Linked DNA regions of Homo sapiens: region 1 is linked to region 2. A link means that fine-mapping ties the variant in region 2 to the expression of a gene that starts in the linked region. Tissue or cell type: whole blood. Region 2 holds a variant in brackets; the other region holds the start of a gene. All regions are shown on one strand. Distances are between the middles of the regions.

What was found. PIP is the estimated chance that this variant, and not a neighbour inherited with it, causes the effect.
Region 1: AP2B1 starts here. The variant in region 2 is fine-mapped to the expression of AP2B1 in whole blood (INTERVAL, PIP 0.98).

What each region holds. Positions count from the first base shown.
Region 1 is chr17:35,582,454-35,590,560 of GRCh38, forward strand. AP2B1 (adaptor related protein complex 2 subunit beta 1) reads left to right here and starts at 4,869. Exons shown (of 22, transcript NM_001030006.2): 1 at 4,869-4,975. RefSeq lists enhancers at 4,676-4,845, 4,815-6,014, 5,276-5,385 and a silencer at 4,926-5,045.
Region 2 is chr17:35,549,271-35,557,377 of GRCh38, forward strand. SLFN14 (schlafen family member 14) reads right to left here. Exons shown (of 6, transcript NM_001129820.2): 3 at 7,733-8,107; 4 at 5,306-5,434; 5 at 3,460-4,174. It overlaps LOC107985033 (a long non-coding RNA gene), which reads left to right and starts at 3,935. Exons shown (of 2, transcript NR_138032.1): 1 at 3,935-4,221; 2 at 5,328-6,279. The variant C/CAT (reference allele first, on the strand shown) is at 3,381.

The DNA of each region.
Region 1 (8,107 bases), 33 kb after region 2:
CCAGGATGGAGTGCAGTGGCGCAATCTCGGCTCACTGCAACCTCTGCCTCCCGGGTTCAAGCAGTTCTGTACCTCAGCCTCCCGAGTAGCTGAGATTACAGGCGCCCACCACAACGCCTGGCTAATTTTAGTAGAGACGGGGTTTCATCATCTTGGCCAGGCTGGTCACGAACTCCTGACTTTGTGATCCACCTGCCTTGGCCTCCCAAAGTGCTGGGATTACAGGTGTGAGCCACAGCGCCCAGCTACGGCTTTGAGATTTTAAAGGTAGAATTGACAACTGGAGATGGATTGGATGTGGCAGTTGAAGGAAAGGGAAATCAGGAATGACCCCTAGGTTTCTGGCTTGAGCAGCTCAGTGCAATTTATTAAAATAATCACAATTACAGGAAATAGTTCCATAGTCCATGCTATATGCCAGCCATAGTTCTAAGTGCTTTACATTTAATTTATTTCATTGTTCAATATTATGATTAGATGTTACTATCTTCCTCCATTTTATAGATGAGAAAACCAAAGAAAGCACATAGATGGAGGAAACTGGGGGAAGAATAGCTTTCAAACATGTTAGGCAATGAGAAGTTGATGAAAGTTTTTGAACAGCAGAGAGGTATGAATCAAAGCTCTTAAATATTTTTCTTTTTCTTTTTTTTTCCTTTTCCTTTTTTTTTTTTTTTTTTTTTTTTTTTTTTTTTTTTTTTTTGAGATGGAGTCTTACTTTATTGCCCAGGCTGCAGTGTAGTGGTGTGATTTCGGCTCACTGCAACCTCCTCCTCTCAGGTTCAAGTAATTCTCCTGCCTCAGCCTCCCTAGTACCTGAGACTACAGGCATGTGCCACCATGCCTGGCTAATTTTTGTATTTTTAGTAGAGTCAGGGTTTTACCATGTTGGCCAGGCTGGGCTCAAAGTCCTGACCTCAGGTGATCCACCTGCCTTGGCCTCCCAAAGTGCTGTGATCACAGGCGTGAGCCACCACGGCCAGCCTCTTGAAGATTTTTCTAATGACATCTTTACGAAATCTACCTCTGTCTGCTAGCAGTTGTACCTTGAACGAGTTTTTTCTCTCTCTCTCTCTCTCTCTCTCTCTCTCTCTCTCTCTCTTTCTTTTTAGAGACGGTCTCACTCTGTCACCCAGGCTGGAGTGCAGTGGCATGATCATGGCTCACTACAGCCTCAAACTCTTGGGCTCAAGTGATCCTCCCACCTCAGCCTCCCAAAGTGCTGGGATCATAGGTGTAAACTGCTGTGCCCAACTCTGTAACCAGGTTTTTCTAACCTCCTCCATTCCTTATGATTTAACCCAGCAGTATAGTTATCGATTTGGTGATGAAATTTGGGGAATAGGTCTAGGCTAGAGATAAGAGATTTTGGAGCCATATATGTAAGAAAGATAATTAAAACCATGGTATGCTAAAGGGTTAGTGTAGAGAAAATGTATGAGTATAGAACTAAACTTGAAAAAATTGGCTGAGTTTGGTGGCTCATGCCTATAATCCCAGCATTTGGGGAGGCCAAGGCAGGAGGATCACTTGAGCCCAGGAGTTGCAGACCAGCCTGGGCAACATGGCAAGACCCCCTCTCTACAAAAAAAGAAAATTAGCTAGGCGTGGTGACACATGCCTGTAGTCGCAGCTACTTGGGAGGCTAGGTAGGAGGATTGCTTGAGCCTGGGAGGTCAAGGCTGCAGTGAATTGTAATGGCACCACTGCACTCCAGCCTGGGCAACAGTGCAACACCCTGCCTCAAGAAAGAAAAAATCCTTGCCACTGTTTTCCTCAGATACCATTTCTGCTTTCTTTGGTCATACTTTCTTATGAGTTATCTGCAACTCCTGTTTTTATTTCCTCATTTCTAATCCATCCTCAAACATCTGCAGTATGACTTTTGCCTTCATATCTCTACTGATTTCTCAGCAATAACATCAAATACCTCCATGTTACTAAATCCTGTAGACACTTTTTAGCCCTTCTCCTGTCTATGGCAACTAATATTGTTGATCACTTATTTATGCGTTTAGTCAACATATATTAATTTGTGTGTGTGTGTGTGATGGGGCTAGCCTCATGTGTGCAAGAGTGAACAGATTGGTATAGTCCCTACTTTCATGAAACTCTGAAAACATCCTAAAATATACTATTCTGCTTTTCCTCCTACCTCTCTGACTACTCCTTCTCAGTCCTCTTTGCATTCTTGGGTTTATCTGTTTCTACCCCAAGCACTCACTCTCCACATTCTTCATGAATAATGTTCATGCCCACAGATTGAATTATCATCTGTATGCTCACAGTTCACAAATTTAACTCCAGATCATTCCTTATCTTCAGACACATATAATCAAGTACCTCTTGGGTAGAGATCTTCACTCTAACCTAACGTATAAAATGAACTCATCACCTCCCTATTCTTCCCCAAACTTCTGCCATTTCTTATATTTTCCTATTTTCAGTGACTAGTACCACCGTTCCTCCCTTGCCCTAACCTAAAACATAAGCCTTATCAGCCCTAGTGTCAGACTTCCTGGGTTCAAATCTTAATTCTACCTTTGTGTGTGTGTATGTGTGTGTGCGTGTCTGTGTGTGTGACTGCAAGCTCCGCCTTCCAGGTTCATGCCATTCTCCTGCCTCAGCCTCCTGAATAGCTGGGACTATAGGCGCCCGCCACCACGCCCTGCTACTTTTTTTTTGTATTTTTAGTAGAGATGAGGTTTCACCATGTTAGCCAGGATGGTCTCGATCTCCTGACCTCGTGATCTGCCCGCCTCAGCCTCCCAAAGTGTTGGGATTACAGGCGTGAGCCACCGCGCCCAGCCATCTTAATTCTACCTTTTAACTTCTCTGTATCTCTTAAAATAGAGGAAGTAATAGTACCTACTTGGTTATCAGGTGGTGCGGATGTAAAAATGTACTTAGCAGAGTAACTGACATAAAATCATAATAAATATCAACAGTTATTTGTTTAAACCACCATCATCGTGTGGCTGGATCATGTCAACAGTTTCCTGAGTGGTCTCCCATTAGATTATGAGCCCGTGATGGTCCCAAAAGGTGAAAAGAAGGGAGATTGGTCCATACTTTCACCCAAAAGTGGAAGAGAATGAAGTTGGAAAAGCTTTCGGATTGATGCTATATTTTGAAAATAGTATTGGTTCATTTTTCCTTAAAATATATGCATTTTTCAGAGAAAGGAATGGAAAATAAAACAAATATAAAGAAGATAACATTTGTAATCAGCACCCAGAGGGAACCACTAATAGGTATATATACTCCTCTGGATTTAGAGTTTTGTATCTTTTTTTTTTTCTTATTTCAAAGCATTTTTCTGTATCATATTTTTCAACAATATGATTTAAAAGGCACATCCCAACATAGAAATAAATACATGTTCATTGTAGAACACTTTGAAAAATACAGAAAAATATTAGGAAGAAAAATAAAACTCTCACTATCCTGCAATAACCACTTTTAACGTTCTGCTGAATATCCAAGCTTTTTTTTTTTTTTTTTCTTTTGAGATGAGTCTGGCTTTGTTACTCAGGCTGGAGTGCAGTGGCGAGATCTGGGCTCATTGCAACCTCTACCTCCTGGGATCAAGCCATTCTCCTGCCTCAGCCGCCTGAGTAGCCGGGATTATAGGCGTGTGCCACCACCCCCAGCTAATTTTTGTTTTTTCAGTAGAGACAGGGTTTCACCACATTGGCCAGGCTGGTCTCAAACTCCCGACATCAGGTGATCCACCCACCTCAGCCTCCTAAAGGGCTGGGATTGCAGGTGTAAGCCACCACGCCTGGCCTATCCTAGCCTTTTTTTTCTATACATATATAGTCATACTGTATACTGTATTGTTTGGTGTCCTTTTTTTGCTTAACACTTTATGAATTTTCTGTCATAAAATATTCTATAACATTATGCAGCTATCTGATTTACCATAACTGTTTGCATTCTCTCACCTTATACCTGGCTTTCTAATTTCCCCTATTCCCCTATTTTAATAACAGAGGAAATAATAATACATGAGTATGTTATACAAAATTTTAATGTACTTCTGATCACTTTTTTAAGAATGAAGTTTTAAAATACTGAAACACTTTTTGACTCACAGAGTTCATAGGCAAAATGTGAGAAAAATCATCACTTTGCTCTCCATCCTTCCTTACACCCTGAAATTAACCTTAGGGACAGCTAGTTCATTTAACATCATCAATCTTGTTCTCCAGTTCCAGGTCCTGGAATCTAGCTCTTAGTGTCCGAAAGAAACTTACTTTTGTGTAAGCACACCTATTATATACTAGGCACTTTACCTAATTTATCTGGTTTAAACTTCACATGCCCGAGAGAGATACTATCATTGTCTTCATTTCACAGATAAGAAGGTTGATGAGACATTAACTGTCTCAGTCACATTCAGGGTAGGGATTCAAACTCACATCCAATGCCTCCTCAACCTCTTTTACGTGCAGCACTATCCTCTAGCCCCACTGCCCGTATATAGGCCTGGGCTATATCACCATTGTCCGCCCTTGAGCCTGGAAGGAAAATGAGCTGAGGGGTTTTGTTTTTTCAGAAAGGAACAGGATATTTCATCATCTCTATGTTTACGTTTTTCAGAGAATTTCTGTGCGAGGAAACAAATCCATTGTCAGCTTTTTAAAATATATCCCTTTGGAGTAGCCACTTAACATCCTCTGAGGCCCAGATGGGCTAGCTTGCCGGGACCAAAGGAAATCTTTGGGTCTGGAAGGCGACAAGAGATCACAGGCTTTCTAGGTCTACCGCGCACCCCGATGACGTCACGCGGCGACGTTCTCTGACGTCAGAGTTTCCTGCCCACCATCTTTGTCCCTGGCAAAGTGGGTTTTGCGCAGTGGCTTAGACCTAGAAAAGAATCGTGACGGGCAGGAAACCATTACACCACCACCTGGGCTGTGCTCTCCGGCTCCCGCCGCCACCCCCGCCCTCGCCTTCGCCTCCGCCTCCGGTGAGTTCAGGGCGGTTGCCTTTAGGGTGTGTCCCTAATTGACGGGGTCGGGGACGGAGAGAAGGGTAACACCAGGCTGGGTCGGAGACCGGCGGAGGCGAGGAAATCCTAAGAGCGTGACCGTTGATGATGCAGGGAACCGTCGGGTGTGACCATTGAGAGGGAAAAGGTTGGAGAAAGGGTCTCTACCATGATGCCTGTGGTGCGGTGAGGGAATCCTCGGGTGTGGCAGCAGGTAGTTGGGGGCAGGAGGGGAAGATGTGTTTCGGAATTGAGGGTTTAGGGGGACCAGAGGCCAGGGGTGTGGCTGATAGAGCCTGGAGGCCGTGGGGGGAACCGTCTTTCTTCCCCGCTCGGCGTCGTTCACTGAGAGGCTGAGACGTGTCCAGCAAGCCAAAGGGAAAAGGGATTCCCTCAAAGGTTTGCTCATTGATGGGCGAACGTCGTCTCTCGGGTAACTTGAGGGTAAGAGACAACCTCTTCCCTGCTCCGTAATGGAGGAGCATATCGCTAGAATCTTGACCACCTGGGGAAAGAAGAGGCATTCCTTACTCTTGGAGGAAGGAAAGAGTAACCTCCAGAATTGACCCGATGTAAGAGAGGGGGAAGCAAATGGGGGCAAATCTTAACCCAGCATCTTTTTTTTTTTTTTCTTTTTCTGGGCTCTGCAGTAATGGTCTGGTTTGGGAAAGGCTGTAGATTAAGCTGAAAGTAAAGAAACTGGAACGTCCTGTTATTTCCTTATCATTTGAATCCAAATCATTTGTTCATGCTGCTTGTTTTCAAGAGTAGTCTTCTATTGGAGGGGTGGGGTGGGGGGGGACAGGCCTTTATTGAACTCACGCGGATGCTTCATTAAACTTTTGACTTTTATTTTATTTTATTTTTGTATTTTTAGTGACAGGGTCTTACTGTGTAGCCCAGTCTGGTCTCGAACTCCTGGGCCCAAGCGATCCTCCCGCTTCGGCCTCCTAAAGTTTTGTGATTACAGGCGTGAGCCAGCGCGCCCAGCCAAACTTGACTTTTGAGAAGAAAAAATGTTTTGAAAACTGCCAAAGACTTATCATAACCATTGTGGTTTAAAAGAAAGTAAATGCATTAAGCTTAGAAAGGCAGAATGACTAAGAAAGAAGGTGGTCTCAATGAGAATCAATTTAAATGATTAGTTACCTTCCTTGTATACTTCAATTGCTTAGCCTCAGGGTACACTTACAAAGTAGTAATAGAAAGCAGCAGATGAAGGAGGTGCAGCTCTATAAGAAAACGTGTTAAGACATTCCAGTGATGACTAAGCGTGCTGGTAAGGTGAGAACTGTTTGCAGTATCTTAGCCGTTGAAACTTTCAAGGAAGCAGAAAGGATGATGTATAATGCAAACATCCTCACTAAAAGCTGGGTGGTAAAATCAATATAAATCTAATATTCTGACTGTGTATGAAGAAACTCAAGGAAGTCCAGTTCTTTCATTCTTTCTTTCCTTAAAAGATCCATATTTTGAAATACTAACTTTTTAGGCACAGGTTTGAACGAAGCTGAGCAAGGAATATATTAAATAGGGCACGTTCTCCTTTCTCTTGTCCTTTCTTTCCTTCTAGCCTTAGGTTTTCCAGAGTTTAATGTTATTTTGGTTAAGAATTAGATGTAAAACTTTTGAACTCCTTTGCTTCGTTATAATATTAAGAAGCTACTTTGTAGTCTGTTATGTTTAAATAGAAATCACAGGTGATTTTAGCTTTTGTGTCTCATAATTTCTTATGAGCAAGGTAATACCTGATGATGCTATTGTCTTTGCATTATTACTGAATATTTGATTAGAAATGAATTTGGCACCTCTCACCTTTATAATAAAAGATTACTGGAATGACATTTCTGCTTTATAATTTGGTTAACTTTGGCCAGTTTTTCACTATGAGCACTGAGCTTTGTAAAGTCCCACTTTGTGAAAAGAAGGGTTTAGTGACTTTACAAACTAATTTAGCTTCCCAGAGAGCCATTTGAATTAAGACCCTATTAATTTTTTTCTGACCTTATTCTACCCAAGGTATTAATCTTATTTTGCTGCTCAGTTTCTCTTTTGGGGAACTGGAGGGAGATATAGGAGAGGAGGGACTTTGACAACCTATATTTGGTAGAAACTAGGTTATGTTAAATCTGGATATATAGTCCTGTGCAGGGAGGCCTTCTCCGAAATGCAGTGACATCACACTCTGGTCGAGGGCAAGTAAGAGTGATTATGTGCTTTGACTCTGGCAGCTTTGTTGTTTAACAGTGGCCTTAGGCCATACCGTAAATCCTCAGAACAGCCGTTACTTGTCTGGTTTGATCTGGTAGAAAGGTAGTGTGAGTTCAAATTCCATCATGGCTTTGCTTATTTCTCTGGCTCTTCTGAAGGAACATTTTCTCCCCCCATAGGAGCAGCTTGATTTTTGAGGCACTTCAGCAAATATTAGATTTTTTTTTTCTTTAGCTCTATTTTGTTTACTTTTTCTGTAACTTCTTTTTTTTTTTTTTTTTTTGAGACGGAGTCTCACTCTTTCGCCCAGGCTGGAGTGCAGTGGCGCGATCTCGGCTCACTGCAAGCTCTGCCTCCTGGGTTCACACCATTCTCCTGTCTCAGCTTCCCGAGTAGCTGGGACTACAGGCGCCCGCCACACGCCTGGCTAATTTTTTGTATTTTTAGTAGAGACAGGGTTTCACCGTGTTAGCCAGGATGGTCTCGATCTCCTGACCTTGTGATCCGCCCGCCTCCCAAAGTGCTGGGATTACAGGCGTGAGCCACCGCGACCGGCTGTAACTTCTAATGAAGACGTCAGTTTTTGCCATCCTGTATTTTGGAGACTCTGGCTATGTCCATATCTAGCATGTGATTAAGTGTATCTCTCATTATATGAGGTGAGAACTCATTATATGAGAGATACACTGAATCATATATATATGTGATTTTTTTTTGAGGTGAAATTCACGTACCATAAAATTAACCAGGTTAAGGCATACAGTTCAGTGGCATTTAGTACACTGACAGTGTTGTGCAACAATCATGTCTTCTGATTTGTTTTTATTTACACTATTTTCATTTTTCTTGGAGTTTCTTTTGGCTTAAGGCAAGAACCAGCTTGGCACCATGTTTCTCTGC
Region 2 (8,107 bases):
GGGTTATCCAGTTAAACCTGCATGTGAAACTTCTGAAATGAACCCAGGTAACAGATTGTATTATGTCTATTAGTAATCCATTCCTACTGTTTGGCAATCCTGAAGACAAGTTCATTACATCTAAAGGAAATCTCAAAGTTAACTTACACTTCTTACTACCATTTCTTTACTTTCTATCCTCTTTAGAGCTGGAAAACAGTTTCCTCGATGCATATCATAATTTTTATGTGCAAAAAAAGCACGGACTAGTTCAAATTCCTCTAAAGCTTCTTTAGATTTTGGTAAGAGAAACATCAAGAGGATGCTGAGTTCCACGACACATCAAGTAGGGTACCAAATCTATGGGGCTATGCCTCTTTGGAGCTACCTCATTTACTTAGCTCAATTTTCCTTTATAGTACGCTTTAGCATATATGTATTTTTTCTGAACGAATTTGGTTGTTTTTTGCCTCCTTTAATTTGGATCCAAGTAACATCACTCATCCCTACAGATTCCATGATTTTACATATGCAGTTCCTAGGGCCTTTACTCCCTATGCCTTGAATCATAACTATGTTCTTCTCTTCTGGTTTGGACTGTGTGGACTCAAATAAAAGTACTGATTCTTAGCCATCTTTGTATCCCTCTCACATTAAGGGTTTCATAGATATTTGTTGAGTTAGCCTTTTGACTGGAGTATTTTCAAACTTAGCTATGAAACTTAATAAAGAACGTAGTCCTCAGCACAGTCTACAGGATCCCTGATAATCTGGCGTCTACCTCCTTTTCAACATCACCACCTGCTGTATACCCACAGTCTGCACAGCTCTAGTCAGACCTACCATTCTGGTTCTCTGGTGTCTCCATGTCTTTGAACTTGCTGTGCCCTTTGCCTGGAAAGCCCTCCCCTATTTGATTCACTTCTCCTGCTGACTTCTTAACAGTGTGCCCAATGGTCTCCTTCACTGGGGAATATTTACCAACCAACCTCTAGCCTGTTAAAATGGGCATGAGGCCAGGTGCAGTGGCTCACGCCTGTAATCCCAGCACTTTGCGAGAAGGAGGTGGGCGGATCACCTGAGGTCAGGAGTTCAAGACCAGCCTGGCCAACATGGTGAAACCCCGTCTCTACTAAAAATACAAAAATTAGCTAGGCGTGGTGATGCACACTTGTAATCCCAGCTACTCGGGAGGCTGAGGCAAGAGAATCACTTGAACCCAGGAGACAGAGTTTGCAGTGAGCTGAGATCGTGCCACTGCACTCCAGCCTGGTTGACACAGCAAGACTCCGTCTCAAAAATAAATTAATTAATTAGTTAATTAAAATGAGCATGTCTTTATTATTATACAATACTCACATTGTTTTTTTTATGGCAAGGTCTTCAATATGTTTTCTCCTCTAACACTAAATGTAGCACAGTAGATACCACATCAACAGTGCTCAAAAAGATTTATTGAATAACAAAACCAAGCCAAAAATCATAATGATTTTGCCCTCTTTTGCTGAATTCTATAATGACCAATTCATTTTACTAAATTAAAAGTTAGAGATTTAAATCAGAAGTGAATTTGCATATTTTCTAAAATTACTGATGCAGAACAAGTCAAAAATGAAAATATTTTATGAACAAAATCAAACTGTATTTAAATTCAAGTTTCACTAGGTACAATGTCTAATTAGCAGAAATACCCTATGACTTTAAAACATTACATATCAAACAGAAAGTATACTTAAAGCAGAATGGGTTCATTTCTACTTCTCTTAAATGTAAGGCCATGGATTGTGAGAAAAAAAAAAGTTTCTGGTTCTGTAAATGTAAGTTATGCACATGTGGGTTATTTATAATGAGATGTTTAAGGTTGAACATTATAAATTACCTGTTTACAGCTCAATTCCATGATTATTTGGAAATGTGTATATAGTTTGGGCTCTTGCACTTATGCAACTAAGGCACTGCAAAAACTTAAACTAAAAACACAAATCACTTTTGTGACACTCTTGAAAAGACTGACTAAATATATTTTTGTGTGTGTGTGCAACCAACTCCCAGCACATCAGGTGGGTAACTCTTCCCACACGAATAGTCTGCCTACCCTCAGGAATATTTTTTGTCTGTGGTACCTCAGCCTATCGTTGTTTGAATGGCTCTTCAGAATCTATATGCTTCCTCTCATTCTTAGCGCCCCCTATGACCATCTACACTGAACAAGATTTATACAATCATGTCGTACCTAAGCCCCGCAACAAAAGGGTACCCATTCTTCCTTTTGTTATCGGAGCAGGAGTGCTAGGTGGAGTAGGTACTGGCACTGGCGGTATCACAACCTCTATTCAGTTCTACTACAAACTATCTCAAGAACTAAATGGTGACATGGAACGGGTCTCTGACTCCCTGGTCACCTTGCAAGATCAACTTAACTCCCTAGCAGCAGTAGTCGTTCAAAATAGAAGAGCTTTAGACTTGCTAGCCGCCGAAAGAGGGGGAACCTGTTTATTTTTAGGGGAAGAATGCTGTTATTATGTTAATCAATCCGGAATCGTCACCAAAAAGTTAAAGAAATTCGAGATCGAATACAACGTAGAGCAGAGGAGCTTCAAAACACTGGCCCCTGGGGCCTCCTCAGCCAATGGATGCCCCGGATTCTCCCCTTCTTAGGACCTCTAGCAGCTATAATATTGTTACTCCTCTTTGGACCCTGTATCTTTAACCTCCTTGTTAATTGGACCCTGTATCTTTAACCTCCTTGTTAAGTTTGTCTCTTCCAGAATCGAAGCTGCAAAGCTACAAATGGTTCTTCAAATGGAGCCCCAGATGCAATCCATGAGTAAAATCTACCACGGACCCCTGGACCGGCCTGCTAGCCCATGCTCCAATGTTAATGACATCAAAGGCACCCCTCCCGAGGAAATCTCAACTGCAGAACCCCTACTACGCCCCAATTCAGCAGGAAGCAGTTAGAGCGGTGGTCGGCCAACTTCCCCAATAGCACTTGGGTTTTCCTGTTGAGGGGGGCACTGAGAGACAGGACTAGCTGGATTTCCTAGGCTGACTAAAAATCCCTAAGCCTAGCTGGGAAGGTGACCACTTCCACCTTTAAACATGGGGCTTGCAACTTAGCTCACACCCGACCAATCAGATAAGAAAGAGAGCTCACTAAAATGCTAATTAGGCAAAAACAAGAGGTAAAGAAATAGCCAATCATCTATTGCCTGAGAGCACAGCAGGAGGGACAATGATCGGGATATAAACCCAGGCATTCAAGCTGGCAACGGCTACCCTCTTTGGGTCCCCTCCCTTTGTATGGGAGCTCTGTTTTCACTCTATTAAATCTTGCAACTGCAAAAAGAATATATATATATGTGTATATATATACACATATATATACATATATATATACA[C/CAT]ATATATATACACATATATATACACATATATATATACACATACATATTTTTGTGTGTGTGTAGTTGGTAAAACTCTTACGTCACAAAATCCTTTAGGGAGTCGCTTTCACAAACATAGAGGATCTCTTTTGGTTTGCAGTGAAACAAGTCCTTAATTTTCTCCATGATCTTTATGGCTAGGGCTGTCTTCCTGACTCCTGGAAAGCAGTAGATGAATAATTCACGTGTCTTCTGAAGACTCTCAGAAAGCAACTGGCTCTGCTCCATTATGAGCAAGTTGAAAAATTCACAGCCCATCTGGTCACTCAGAAGAGATCTGGAGGACAGGGAGACCACCACCAGAGCCTGCAGCAAGTCTTCCATTTCCTCCTCATCAGCAAGCCTGTAGGACCTGGGGTAACGCAGGGGGATCTCACCAGGTCTACTCTGTGTGCTGCTCAGGTGTATCAGCCTTGGAATGATGCACACTTTCCCTGTGTAACCACCAACAGTTTGCAGTTTCTGCTTTAACTGATGAGCTGTGTTTCGGGCATATTCAAGTCCTCCAGGCCAATTGGGGTCTATTAAGATTGTATAGAGTACCACGGGGCTGTTAACTGCTATCAGGAGAGCATCACACAGGACATTCTGTTCTTTCCTGAAGCCAACATCACCAGCCCAGCTTCTAGAAAATATCACAATCCCCTGAGAACAAGGATGTATCAGGGTCTTCATTAAACCCTCCAGTTCTTTATGATCTGAGAACAGCTTCTTACAGAGGGATTCTGGTTTAAATTGTACCTCTTCCTGTGTCACTGAAAATTCAAGGAATAGATGTTACCAAAACTTACAAAAGCATGTGGTAAGTATTCCTGCAACGTTGCAGAAAAAAATGATACCTGGTGCATTTGGGAAAATAAGAGCTTTCCTTTAGAATTGTGATTCTTAATCAGGAGCAGTTTTACTCCCCAACTCTCCCCCATCCCCACGGACATTTGGCAATGTCTGGAAAATTTTTTCTTTTTTTGTGAGACGGAGTCTCGCTGTCACCCAGACTGGAGTGCAGTGGTGTGATCTTGGCTCACTGCAGCCTCTGCCTCCCTGGTTCCAGTGATTCTTCTGCCTCAGCCTCTGGAGTAGCTGAGATTACAGTCACATGCCACCACACCTGGCTAATTTTTGTATTTTTAGTAGAGACAGCGTTTCACCATGTTGGCTAGGCTGGTCTCAAACTCCTGACCTCAGTTGAGGTCACCCGCCTTGGCCTCCCAAAGTGCTGGGATTACAGGCATGAGCCACCATGCCCGGCCTGAGAATTTTTTATTGTCACAATTGGAGGGGAGCTACTGGTATGTAGTAGGTACCAGATAGGAATGCTGCTAAGTATTCTACAATTCACAGGGCTCTCCCTCCCCCAGCAAAGAGTTATCTGACTCAAATGACAATAGTGCTAAGGTTGAGAAACCCTGCTTTAGAAGAAGTTCAGATAACCCAATGGCTCCTTCTGCATTGGAAAGCTAGGGGCAGTTTTTTGATGGTTGAGACCTGAGAAATTCCCTGCACTCTCAAATTTGGAAAACAAAAGCCATATGTTATGAGAAGTTGGAAGGCACACAGAAATAGTAATAGTGGGAATCAGATGACTGGAAACAAGGGTCAGATATATAGATATATAAATATTATATATAATTATATATAATAATTATATAATAAATTAATAATAAATATTAATAATTATTTTAAATAAGTATATATATGACCCTTGTTTTCAGTCATATATATATTATATATATAATATATATATTTCAAATTTCAGGATCATTATGTCGCTAAGTCCTTCATTTGACCTTCCCTAAGGAGAAACACCTGAACTCATTACTACTAACACCTCCCAACTCAATTTTAGAAAACAAATAGTCCCCTAAGTTGAAATCAAGAGGGAATACCTGGAAACAAATGTCGTTGCAGAGCCTCCTTAAATTTGTGGACTTTTATGGGATATCCGGGACTTTTTCGTGCAGATGAAGCTGATGAAATCAGGCAAGAGTTGTAGTCTGTGACCAAACTGGGAGGAGCTAGACAATTACATGGAAAGTTGTTTCAGACAAAAAATAAAAAGTTAAAAAAAAAAAAAAAAAAGCCTCTTTTTTTGGCTCTTCTTACTGGAGACCTGTGATGTGCATGGGTGCCTGAGCAGTCGTACTTACTATGCGTCAGACAGCTCACGTATGTCAGGAAAGGAAGTCTGGGGATTCCTACAGGGGACATATCACACATATTCTAAGTCACTGTGTGACTCGGCTTGAGCAAGTCATTTCACCTCTCTCTCACGCTGGAGTGAAGTAATAATCCCTAAGCTTCCTTTCAATTATAATATTCTGACTCCAGGTTATCTCTAAGAAGAAAAGGCATCTAGTGGGGATCAGCAAGGATTAAAGCACAGTATTTTAAAAATGGTGTTGGCCAGATGTGATGGCTCACACCTGTAATCCCAGCACTTTGGGAGGCCGAGGCAGGCGGATCACGAGGTCAGGAGATCAAGACCATCCTGGCTAACACGGTGAAACCCCGTCTCTACTAAAAACAAAAAAAATTAGCCAGGCATGGTGGCCGGCGCCTGTAGTCCCACCTATTCGGGAGGCTGAGGCAGGAGAATGGGGTGAACCCAGGAGACGGAGCTTGCAGTGAGCCGAGATAGCGCCACTGCACTCCAGCCTGGGTGACAGAGCGAGACTCCGTCTCAAAAAAAAAAAAAAATACAAAAAAATACAAAAATTAGCTGGGCGTGGTGGTGTGCCTGTAATCCCAGCTGCTCGGGAGGCTGAGGTGGGAGAATTGCTTGAACCTGGGAGGCGGAGGCTGCAGTGAGCTGAGATCGTGCCGCTGCACTCCAGCCTAGGCGACAAAGCAAGACCCTGTCTCAAAAAAAAAAAAAAATGTTGTTACAGTTGTTTATGTCCCCATCTAAGGTTAGATGGAATCAAAAGTGGCAGGATCTTTAGGGGAGAGGAGAAGAGAAGTGAACTCAAACAAATTAAGAGAAAGAATGACCCAATAAAATTCTCCAATCACTCAAGTTTTGATGAAATCTGGAACATACTGGCCGTGAAGGCAAGCAGATAGGCGTAGTTCGGCCTATAGTCCTTTATGGATTGATTAGGAATCACCAAGGCTGATTCCAATCAAAACTGAAAGGTAAGTGAGAACACCAGGGGTCCTGCTCCCCCCAGCACCCCCTTGCCCTAGCATCTCCTTTTGCATCATTTTCCCCCACTTGGTGGTGCCCTAAGCCCAGTGGCTTAAGGTTATTAGCTCCTAATGTTACTGAAACAATTCAAATTTGTCAACAATGTTTTGCTTGAAAGAATTAGTGGAGTAGTGGAGTCATTTATTTTTATTTTTTTATTTTTATTTATTTATTTTTTTGAGACGGGGTCTCGCTCTGTTGCTTAGGCTGGAGTGCAGTGGAGTGATCTTGGCTGACTACAACCTCCACCTCCCAGGCTCAAGCAATCCTCCCACCTCAGCCTCCCATGTAGCTGGGACTACAGGCATACACCACCACGCCTGGCTAATTTTTATATTTGGGGGAGAGATAGGGCTTCGCTATTTTGGCCAGGCTGGTCTCAAACTCCTGGGCTTAGGCAATCTGCCCACCTTGGCCTCCCAAAGTGCTAGGACTGCGCCCAGCCTCAGAGTTATTCTTAAACAGTGTTTCTCTAGAATATCATCTCTAAAATGAGGCTATTCCAATTTTGACTGGGATGATCAGCCTGCACAATTTTTTCAACAGGTTTATAGACAATAAAAGGAGACCTTTCCTAACTCATTGCTGATGGCATACTGTAACTTTCCTTTAAAAGTTGCTTAGGCTGGCCAGGAGTGGTGGCTCACACCTGTAATCCCAGCAGTTTGGGAGGTGGAGGTGAGTTGATCACTTGAGGTTAGAAGTTCAAGACCAGCCTGGGCAACATGGCAAAACCCCATCTCTATTAAAAATACAAAAATTAGCCGACATGGTGGTGTGTGCCTGTAATCCCAGCTACTTGGGAGGCTGAAGCACGAGAATCACTTGCACCTGGGAGGTGGAGTTTGCAGTGAGCCGAGGTCACACCACTGCACTCCAGCCTGGGTGACAGAGTCTAAAGAAAAAAAAGTTGTTTAGGCCATAGAATCCAAACATTTCTTGACCTCAGTTTATATTCTGAGTCTTTGGAACTAAAAATGTTAGATAAGGAACACTGTAATGGGAGAACACTTATAAGAAAAATAAATTTCTATTTTTTAACTAACATATGTGATCAAATACCCACAAAAGGCAGAGAAAGGGGTTCCTCCCTGCTGATGGGGACAATGACTTCACTTCCCTTTACCTGACTGAGTATCCAGCATCATGACCACCCACTGCTCAGCTGTCAGCCGTGTGACAGAATTGTCTTTCATGATCCAGGAATCTGGGGCCTCTGCAAACACCACGCAACAGAAGGGCTCCACTTGAATCACACAGACATAACCATCCAGGACATCTTTTTGGTACACATTCAGGATTTTTGTAGTGAAATTTACCTTTGGCTTCTCACAGCAGAAGTGGAATGTAGGCAATTTTTCTATGCAGTTTTCGATTTCTTTTTTTAGTAAGTCAGGATTCACTTTTTCCCACTTACATCCAACCACTTCTTTGCTCTTATCATCCACCCCAATGAGGACATATCCCCCTTGAGTGTTGGCAAATGCAGAAACATAATGAG